2 separate regions of the Homo sapiens genome follow, and region 2 is linked to region 1. The links come from fine-mapping of genetic effects on gene expression. A gene starts in region 1. The other region holds a variant in brackets. All regions are shown on one strand. Distances are between the middles of the regions. Region 1 holds the start of TTC9B (tetratricopeptide repeat domain 9B). Region 2 overlaps MAP3K10 (mitogen-activated protein kinase kinase kinase 10).

Evidence for each region. PIP is the estimated chance that this variant, and not a neighbour inherited with it, causes the effect. A credible set is the group of variants that fine-mapping cannot tell apart.
Region 2: its variant is the best candidate, but not a certain one, in a credible set for the expression of TTC9B in cerebellum (GTEx, PIP 0.81).

The regions. Positions count from the first base shown.
Region 1 is chr19:40,215,113-40,220,478 of GRCh38, reverse strand. TTC9B (tetratricopeptide repeat domain 9B) reads left to right here and starts at 2,095. Exons shown (of 3, transcript NM_152479.6): 1 at 2,095-2,524; 2 at 3,110-3,292; 3 at 4,207-4,421. The coding sequence starts at 2,098. The coding sequence ends at 4,316. MAP3K10 (mitogen-activated protein kinase kinase kinase 10) reads right to left here. Exons shown (of 10, transcript NM_002446.4): 10 at 4,904-5,366. The coding sequence ends at 5,187. RefSeq lists enhancers at 1-1,058, 2,637-3,227.
Region 2 is chr19:40,194,018-40,199,383 of GRCh38, reverse strand. MAP3K10 (mitogen-activated protein kinase kinase kinase 10) reads right to left here. Exons shown (of 10, transcript NM_002446.4): 2 at 829-1,009. Among named protein-coding and RNA genes, the nearest start is that of MAP3K10, 5.3 kb to the right of the region's middle. The variant T/C (reference allele first, on the strand shown) is at 2,753.

The sequences.
Region 1 (5,366 bases):
AGACACACCGGAGGTAGGGAAAGGTGTGTGCACTGCTCAAGAACTCAAATTCATGAGTTTTACACTCCTAACTGAGCCTGGGTTTGGAGATGCAGAGAGGAAAATGTTTGCACCCCTGAGGTGTTCAAGGCTGGACCCCAGGGATAAGGGAGAAACTCACTCAGCAAAAGCGTTTTACAGCAAAGTACAATAAGAGATAGAGGCAGATGCTCTGGTTGAGATGGAAGGTGCTGAGTTCTGGTTTCTGTCTGTCACATGTGACCTGCCATGGGACCTCCAGCTAGAGGATGTGCTGTGGGGGTGGAGTTGGGGAGAGTGGGGAGGCCTGGGGCTGAGACCCAAGCTAGAGTCTCAGAGGAGGGGGAGGAGTAGTAATGCATAATGCCATTCACTCACACACTCATTCATTCAACAACTATATATGGATGCTGACTCAGAGCCAGGCACTCATGATCACATGACTCAGAGTCTAATGGACGATAAGAAACACCAGTTGTTAATTGCCCATTAATGTATGAAGCCCTGTGCTAAGTGCCTTACCTGCATAAGATAATTCAGTCTCTGCAACCGCTCTGAGGTTAACTTGCCTTCTATCCTCATGTCGCACAGACGAAGCCGAAGGAGGAGGATCGAGGAACTTGGCCCAGGTCCCACAGCTAAGGAGGCGGCAAAGGAGGACTGAAGGGCAGTTGACTCATTCATCCTCGATTTTTTTCTTGAAAGCCTCCTGCATGCTTCCTTTCCTGGGGACTTGTTTGCCCTCTCACTTGTTTTCCCCCATAGACAGCCGAGCTGGATGAGGGCAAGAAGGAGATCTCTCTTGTTTTTAGAGTTATTCCCTCCTCCAGGAAGACTTTATCACCACCTCAGCCCAGGGCAGGTACCTCCCACATCCCAGCCCCGACCCCTCTGCCTGTGCCTCTTCCACCTCGGCCCCGACCCCTCTGCCTGTGCTTCCCAGGCTAGCCTGCTCAGGGCTGTCACTGTCTGGTCACTGGTCTGTCTTCCCACTGAACTGGGGCCCAGTGAGAGTAGGGTCTGAAGCTCACGCAGTGTCTGCTATGTCCCAGCATCATCCAGCACAGAGCTGGGCACAGAAAGGATGTCAGTGAATATTTGTTTCATAAATTAACAGATGAATCCCAAAGGTGGTATTATTTTTAATTCCTTTCCTTTCCTTTTTTCTCTTTCCTCTTTCCCCTTTCCCCTTTCCTTTCCTTTCCTTTCCTTTCCTTTCCTTTCCTTTCCTTTCCTTTCCTTTCCTTTCCTTTCCTTTTTTGAGACGGCATCTCCCTCTGTCACCCAGGCTGGAGTGCAGTGGCACAATCTCGGCTCACTGCAACCTCTGCCTCCCAGGTTCAAGTGATTCTCCTGCCTCAGTCTCCCGAGTAGCTGGGACTACAGGTGCACGCCACCACACCAGGCTAATTTTTGTGTATATATACAAAAATTTTGTATATATTGTATATTAGTAGAGACGGAGTTTTGCCATATTGGCCAGGCTGGTCTCAAACTTCTGACCTCAAGCGATCCATCCACCTCGACCTCCCAAAGTGCTGGGATTACAGGCGTGAGCCACCTCGACTGGCCCTAAAGGTGATATTATTGTGCCATGTTACTGATGAGGATACAGAGTTCCAGGTAGTTTAAGCGAGCTGTCTAAGTCATACCACTAGTGAGAAAGTAAGCAGGGATTTGAATTTGGGAAGCTTGGGTCCAAATCCTGTGTTCTCATTCGATATGCCAAATGGCCAGTGGGCTGAGAGCCAGCTTTCCGTGAGGCTGATGTCTTCCTGCTCTTTCCCCCAGGCTCGTCCTTTCCTTCTAGAAATCTTCGGGAGCTTTGGGCACCGGGGAGGAGAGCAGGCAGGAGGTTGGGGAGGGTAAGGGGAATGGGAACAATTCGGGGGGCGGGCTGGAGAACTAGGACTTGGTTAATTTGAGAGTGAGCATGGGGGAAGTCTCGAGGGGTTTCCCTAGACCCATAGGGGGCAGCCGGAGTCGGCTGCCGGAGGTGAGGGGGCGGAGAAAGGGTGGGGACCAGCCCCGCGGGGGGCGATGCGGTAGCTGCAGCGGCGGCGGCAGGAGTTTCCCACAATGCAGCGCGGCGCGCTGTCCCCGGTGCTGATGCTCAGCGCTGCCCCGGAGCCTCCGCCGCGCCCGCCTCCCGCCCTCTCCCCACCGGGCTCGGGCCCAGGCTCGGGCTCCCGCCATGGCTCGGCTCGTCCCGGTCCTACCCCAGAGCCGTCGGGGAGCCTGGGCGCGGCGCTCGACAGCAGCCTGCGTGCCGCCGTGGCGTTCAAGGCAGAGGGCCAGCGCTGCTATCGAGAGAAGAAGTTCCGGGAGGCCATCGGCAAGTACCACCGAGCGCTGCTGCAGCTGAAGGCGGCGCAGGGGGCCCGCCCTAGCGGCCTGCCCGCCCCCGCCCCCGGGCCCACCAGCAGCCCCGGGCCGGCGCGCCTCAGCGAGGAGCAGCGGCGCCTGGTGGAGAGCACGGAGGTGGAGTGTTACGACTCCCTCACGGGTACGCCGTCGGGGGGTGGGGGGATGGGGCACGAGGGGAGGGGGCAATCGGGAGAGCTTGGCGACTTGGGGGCCAGGGGCCCTGGGGCTGAAGGGTCCAGGGCTGTGGGCTTCTGGGGGAGCCTTCAGAGCTTGATCAAGGAAAGGGATTAGGGGTAGGGGATGACAGGGGTCTGTGGCTGGAGGGAGCTGGGATGCAGGAAATGGTCTTTGGGTCGGGTATTCAGGGCCTCGCTTCCCCTGAGTCATTCTTTCCACCCCCTGGCCGCACGTGGACCCAAGGTGAGGAAGTCTGCCCTGAGCCAGGCTCTCGAGGTCCCGGCCCTCGCCCCCGCGCGGGGCCTTAGTGCTCTTGCCCACCGACAGCTCTGGGTGGATCGCCCAGTGGCGCCTGTCCGTGTTTTGGCGCCCCCTAGCAGCGGCGCAGTTGCGCCTGTTTCGATAGGCGAGCGGATTGGCGCCCCTGGTTGCCGGAGCAATCCCTTAGGCCTGGTTCCCTGCCGCCTGGAGCCTCGGCTCCTCGCAGTCAGGTGGGTTCTGGGGGTGCCAGCAGGCTCTGAGAGTGCCGGCCGCGGGGCCCTCGCAGCTTGCCTGCTGCAGTCGGAGCTGGTAAACTACGAGCGCGTGCGCGAGTACTGTCTCAAGGTACTGGAGAAGCAGCAGGGCAACTTCAAGGCCACCTACCGTGCCGGCATTGCCTTCTACCACCTGGGCGACTACGCACGCGCGCTGCGCTACCTGCAGGAGGCCCGCAGCCGGGAACCCACAGGTGAGTGGCGGGGCGGGGCAGAGGTGAGGGCTGGGCCCAGGGCGGGGAAAGGGGCTGCAGCGGAGGGAACAGGCAGGAAGATCAGGGCAGAATAGCAGAGCCCTCCTCCCGCGGAGCTGCTTCTAGGTAGGGCTGCGCCACCCACCTACTCCCTACACGCCCACTCATCCATTCATCCACCCCGCCCTTCACCCGCCATTCAAACATCCGTCCACCTATCGCTCCTCTGACATCTCCCCGGCCATTTCTCATCTACCGTCATTGCCACATCTGATATCTCCTATTCACCTGCTCAGTCACTTCCCTATCCACCCACTGTCATCTCCATTACCCCGTCCCACCCCTGCCTACCGCACACACTCATTCCTCCACTCACCCATTCACGCACACCTATTCATTCACTTCCTGCACCATCCACTCATCCACTCGGGTGGACGATGCCAGGAAATTGGGGTGTGTGTGTGTGTGCGTGCATGTGTGCACTTACACACATGAGTGCAGGAGGGCAGACACAACACTCAGTTTTGTATTAAGAGCCAATGAAGAAGGAAGAGGGATTACAACAGGTGCAGGGTTGTGGGAGCCGAGACGAGATTAGTTTTCCTGTTAAGTGGCTCGGAGAGAACAGACTTCTTGCAGATGTCGCTGGAGGATGAGAAGTGTGACGGGAGCCTCTGCGAAGAGGCATTCCTGGCAGAGGGTGCCGCAAATACAGGCGCACAGAGGTGTGCGATGGCTCCGCTGTGACTGGGGACTGCCGACTGTGACTGGGGCTTTGGGGAAGGGCTCTGGCTCTACTGGCTGTGTGAGCGAGCTGCTGGATACTTCGGAGAATGGGGTGTGAGCCAGGGAGGTGTGGAAGTCACCTGCTGCCCCGGGACACCCAGATGATGCCCTGCCCACCTCCCCTGCAGACACCAATGTGCTCCGCTACATCCAGCTGACTCAGCTGAAGATGAATCGTTGCAGCCTCCAGCGGGAAGACAGTGGGGCTGGGTCCCAGACTCGGGATGTAATTGGCTGAGGCCAATCCAGGGGGACCTCTCTATCCCTCGCCCTCCCACCTCACCATGTAACTTCCCCCGACTCATGTGTTTGTTGGTAAAACACTTGTCACTGGTGATCATAACTTGTGTGGTGTTCTTGGGGGGACCAGGGAGGGCCTCATCCCTTGGACCTTAGAAACCCAGAGAAGCCCAGGGAGGGTGTGTGGGGTCGGGGGGAATGTTCCACTGGGATGACCCAGCATCAGGGCCTGGGCCAGGGAAAGAAACAGTCTAGGCCAGGCGCAGTGGCTCACGCCTGTAATCCCAGCATTTTGGGAGGCCGAGATGGGTGGATCACTTGAGGTCAGGAGTTTGAGAGCAGCCTGGTCGACATGGTGAAACCCTGTCTCTACCAAAAATACAAAAATTATCTGGGTGTGGTGGCGGGAGCCTGTAGTCCCAGCTACTCATGAGGCTGAGGCAGAAGAATCACTTGAACCCAGGAGGCGGAGGTTGCAGTGAGCTGAGATGGTGCCACTGCACTCCAGCCTGGGCAACAGAGCAAGACTCTGTCTCCAAAAAAAAAAAAAAAAAAAAAAGGAAAAAGGAACACAATCAAGTGCGGTAGGGGGCAGGGGTTACCTTTAATGCTCCATTTTGTGCCAAATCCCCCATGATGCCCTGTCCCTGAGTATCCCTGCCCACCCTCCCCCCAGTGCAGGGTGGGCACAGGGCTCCACCCCCTGGGGTACAAAGGAATAAGTTAAGTGTCCCCCCCCTCCCTCCTTCCCCAATAAATAGAGTGAACATCCTGCCCAGGGCCTCCCCCACCTTGTGGCATGGCGGGCTGGGGCAGGGCCTGGGGCGCTACATTCATGGCTGCCCAGGCGGGCGGTGGTGGGCAGGCCTTAGTGGGAGCCGTGGGCCCCGCACAGGGGCACTGTGCTGTCTTGGTTCTGCCCCTCCATGTCCATGTCCAGCAGTGTGGGCTGCACGCTGGGGGGCCCAGGGCTCTCCGGAGTGTCTGGCCTGCTGGGAGGCGAGATGGTGAGTGTCCGGCCGAAGGAGACCAGTTTCCAGGGGTCCAA
Region 2 (5,366 bases), 21 kb after region 1:
CCTCCTCGCACTTTGTACTAACACTTTTTTCTGGTGTACTTGTCTTTAAAAATTATAATTTTCTTAAAAAACAGCTTTATAAAAAAGAGCTTCTTGTATGTTGACTGACTTACTATTCCTGAGGGCAGGGATTGCATGTATTTTTCTTCTCTGCTATATCCCTAGAACCCGGTGCAGTTAGATGAAGGAATGAATGAGTGAATTAATCATTTTCCTGTCTGACAGATGGGACAGTGCATGGGCTAGTGTCTGAGGGGGCTTTCAGTGCTAGCATCCATGTGCTGTCTCTATGCTTTTTTAAATTTTTTCTTTTTTTGGAGACAGAGTCTCGCTCTGTCACCCAGGCTGGAGTGCAGTGGCCAATCCCAGCCCACTGCAATCTCTGCCTCCCGGCCTCAAGTGATTCTCCTGCCTCAGTCTCCCGAGTAGCTGGGACAACAGGCATCTGCCACCACGCCCAGGTAATTTTAGTATTTTTAGTAGAGATGGGGTTTCACCATGTTGGTCAGGCTGGTCTCAAACTCCTGACCTCAAGTGATCCGCCCACCTCGGCCTCCCAAAGTGCTGGGATTACAGGTGTGCGCCCCCGCGCCCGGCCTTGTCTCTAGATCCTATGAGCTTTTTATTCTAATCCAGTGTGCCCCCTAGTTGCCATTTGTGCTAGCTGAACAGGTAACTGGCACTTGTCTGGTGGCCTGACCTTGCCAGCAGGTCCCTTTGTCAGACTGAGATCCTGGCTTCAGCAGGAGACCCTCCCTCCCACTCTGCCCTCACCCCTTCCTCCCTCCCTTACTCCCCAGAGGCCATCCCGGCCGCGCCTTTCAGCACCTCCAGACATCACTGCTTTTGGAGAAGAGGGAGAGACGGATAACCTCCGGCGCCATCCAGGCGTAGGTCCCCGCAGCGCTCATCTTGGTGGTCTTGTGCCACTCGCGGGCGAGGCCGAAGTCCGTGATCTTGAGCACCGTGTCTGCGAGGTTGTGGTTCTCGATGGCCTCCAGGATCAGGACTGTGGGGTGGGAAGAAAGGTGGGTCACCCCAGACCTGCCACGCCGCAGACCCAAGTGTTCTGGCCCGCTGCCTCAGCTAGAAACACGTCTTTCCTCTCACTGCCTCAGGCTGCCCCGCTCTGTGGCAGGTCCTTTCCTGGCCTGGAACATCCATGAGCCCCTCCGCCCAGGTCTAATCCCTGTCCCAGGCTCCCATGAGGGAGTAGGGAGCTCCTCCTGTGTCCTCTGCCCTCCTGATTCTGTCCTGGGCTTTGGGGAGCTCCATGAATGGTCAAGAACCAACAGCCAAGGCTGAAGCGGGTCACTTGAGCCCAGGAGTTCGAGACCAGCCTGTGCAACATGGCAAGACCTCATCTCTACAAAAACTTTTTAAAAATACCTGGGTGTGGTGGTGCATGCCTACAGTCCCAGCCACTTGGGAGGCTAAGTTGGGAGGATCACTTGAGGCTGGGAGGTTGAGGCTGCAGTGAGCCATGGTCTTGCCATTGCACTCCAGCCTGGGCAATAGAGTGAGACCTCGTCTCAAAAAAAAGAAACAACAGCCAAGGCCTTAGTCCTCCAGGCCTTGAGTTCCCAGCTACCCTGGAAGCAGGAAGTGCAAACCTGGGGCAGAAGGGAGGAACGTGGCTTCCCCCTCGTGTCTATCACCCCCGTGGCACACTGCAGTCAGGGTCCCAATTCTACCCCTTCCTGTGTCCACACTCTGCCATGAGACTTTGCCATTCTTTCTGCTAAAGAGGCAGAGTATGGCCAGGCACGGTGGCTCACACCTGTAATCCCAGCACTTTGGGAGGCTAAGGCAGGCGGATCACTTGAGGTCAGGAGTTCGAGACCAGCCTGGCCAACATGGTGAAACCTCATCTCTACTAAAAATACAAAAATTAGCCGAGCATCATGGTGCTCACCTGTAATCCCAGCTACTTGGAAGGCTGAGGCATGAGAATCACTTGAACCTGGGAGGTGGAGGTGGCAGTGAGCTGAGATTGCGCCATTGAACTCCAGCCTGGGTGACAGAGCGAGACTCTGTCTCCGAGAAAACAAAAACAAAAACAAAAACAAAGGCAGAGTGCACCCTGACTCTGGCTCAGCCGTATGACTTGCTTTGGCTAAGAATGACAGGGTGCCAATTCCAAGCCCAGGCCTTGCATGTCTGCTGGCCCTCTTGCACTTGTGTCATCACCATGACAACATGCCTCAGCTAGCCTGCTTGTCCAAGAAGATGAGAGCTACTTGGAGCAAAGCCTCTCCAGCTGAGCCCAGCCTCCATCAGTTTACCCTCCAGCTGGTCCGCAAATGCAGGAGCAGTAATACACAATGGCTGTTTTAAGATGCCGAGTTTTGGGGGTAGCTTATTACACAGCATGATCGTGACAAAATCTGACTGAAGTATTCCCTAAACATACTGGATGGTTCTAGCTTACTTTCTACCCGGGTTGTCACTAACAGCCATGAGGATCATGGCTAGTGTTTGTACTGTGCTAAGCTCTCTATAGGAATTGACTCATGAATGACCCCCACCCCGAGCCCTTTTTTATTTTTTTAAAGAGACAGGGTTGGCCAGGAGCAGTGGCTCATGCCTGTAATCCCAGCACTTTGGGAGGCCAAGGTAGGTGGATCACTTGAGGTCAGGAGACCGAGACCAGCCTGGCCAACATAGTGAAACCCTGTCTCTACTAAAAATACAAAAATTAGCTGGGTGTGGTGGCGGGTGCCTGGAGTCCCAGCTATTTGAGAGGCTTTGG[T/C]GAGAGGATCACTTGAACCCAGGAGGCAGAGGTTGCAGTGAGCCGAGATCGTGCCACTGCACTTCAACCTGGATGACAGAGCGAGACTCCATCTCAATGAAATAAATAAATAAATAAAGAGACAGGGTCTTTTTCTGTCACTCAGACTGGAGTGCAGTGGTGTGATTATGGCTTGCTGTAGCTTCAAACTTCTGGGCTTAAACAATCCTCCAGCCTTGGACTCCCAAATTGCTGGGACTACAAGAGTAAACCACTGCACCCAGCCACAACCCATTTTTCTTGACTAGCTAACAGAGGCTCAGAAGTCACTTGGCCAAGAGGTCACATGGTTAGAAAATGGCAGGACAAAGGCTTGAATTAGTTTTGTCATCAGAGCTCAATCTCTTAACTGCTGAGATATTTTACTACCTTCTATCACATAGAGGCTCCAAAGTATACAGTGTGCTGCCTGGGTTTGAGTCTCAGCCCTGCTTCTTCCTAGGTGCATAACCCTGTACAGTTTACTTTAATCTTCACACCGAGACTTCTCCTCTATGAAATGGGGCTCGTAACAGAATTTACCTTCTAGCGTTATAGTAAAAATTTATTGCCTGAAGCAATAGGGCCTTTAAAAGTGTTAGCTGTTATTATTAGTGTGTGATATTGCCATAATTGTTCCGAATTTCTCCACTTTTCTTTTTGCCATTCCTGGCTACTTCCCAGTCATAATAATAATAGTAAGGTAGTTCTACTATCATGCCCATTTGGCAGATGAAGGAACTGAAGGTGGCAGAGATTGGCAAATCACCCAGGGTCACACAATTGATAATCCTGCCCATCCTTTAAAGCCCAGCTTCAGATTGGACGCGGTGGCTCATGCCTGTAATCCTAGCACTTTGGGAGGCTAAGGCAGGCGGATCACCTGAGGTCAGGAGTTCAAGACCAGCCTGGCCAACATGGCAAGACCACCGTCTCTACTAGAAATACAAAAATTAGCCAGGCTTGGTGGCGCACGCCTGTAGCCCTGCCTACTTGGAAAGTTGAGGTGGAAGGATCACTTGAACCCGGGAGGCGGAAGGTTCAGTGAGCTGTGATCACACTACTGCACTCCAGCCTGGGTCACAGAGTGAGATGACTCTGTCTCAAAAAAAAAAAAAAAAAAAAAAAAAAAAAAAAAAAAAGGCCGGGCGGGCTTCAGTGTTACCTCCTCCTGGAAGCCCCCACTGTAAATTCCTAGTCTGTAACTCCACCTCTGCAGAAGTTTTCCCTTCTTAGGTCCCCACCTCTCCTGTTTGTATCGAAACCCTGTGACAGAGGGAACATCTCATGGTTTTATGCTTTATTTCTGTATTTCCCAGGCTGGGCCTAAGTCAGTCCCCCTTCAAAATCTTTATGTAATCATGTCACTCCCTGCTTCAAATCCTCTAATGGCTTCCACTACATCAAATAAAATACCCCAAGTCCTCACCATGGCCCCCAAGGTCCTATGTGATCTGGCTCCTGCCAGCCTTTCTGATCCTACTTCCTCCCATCTCTGCCTCAATGCCTGCTGTTCTGGTCTTGCTGTTCTCCAGTGAGACACACTCACTCCCACCTCAGGGCATGTGCCCCACTGTTCCCCTTCCCCAGATCTTTGTAAAGCTGGGTCCCCTTTGTTCAGGTCTCTGCTCAAATGTTGCCTTCCCTGACCACCCGATCTAAATAAAGAGAACCCTCTGCTCCAGCCTTTGCCTTAGTCCACTGAGAGCCCCTGATACTCTCTGAAATTTTGGTATCCATCTATCCATCATTTATTCCTGTTCACCGGAATATAAATTCCATAGCTGGGGGAGGGAGAAATCTTGCCTTGTTCACTTCTGTAATCCCAGAGCTGAGGCAGTGCCTAGTAAGAGTAGGCACTTAAGAATTACTGGTGGAATGAACCAATGAATGAATGATGGCAGATGAGGCGCTCCTTAGGGTAGGATGAGTGGGGAAGCAGTGCTGTGGAGGCGCTGTGTCCTCTGTTTCTGGCACAGAGCAGACCCATCACCCCGGGAGGAAGCCCTGGCCATAAGAGGCCCACTGACCCTTTGACCAGATAGCACTGGCTACAAAAAACCTGGGGGTGTGGGGCGTGCTGTCAATCAGCAGAGGTGAGGAAGGGCTGAGGAGTCCCAGCCTTCAACAGGAGCATGCTGGGTGGCCCTGCCTCCATTTACCCAACATTTCAGAGGTGCTGGGGCATAAGCATCAGTTCCCCAGACACAGCACCAGCTCTGGCACATCGTGGTCACATGTTAGCTTTTTTTTTTTGCGATGGAATCTTGCTCTGTCACCCAGGCTGGAGTGCAGTGGTGCAATCTCGGCTCACTGCAACCTCCACCTCCTGGTTTCAAGCGATTCTTCTGCCTCAGCCTGAGTAGCTGGGATTACAGATGCATGCCACCATGCCCAGCTAATTTTTGTATTTTTAGTAGAGAAGGGGTTTCACCATATTGGTCAGGCTGGTCTCGAACTCCTGACCTCGGGTGATGCACCCACGTCGGCCTCCCAAAGTGCTGGGATTACAGGCGTGAGCCACCGCGCCCAGCCAAGCTCTCTGTTGATATACAAATGTCAGGCTTGGGAGGCAAGGAAGATGCAGTCCCTCTAT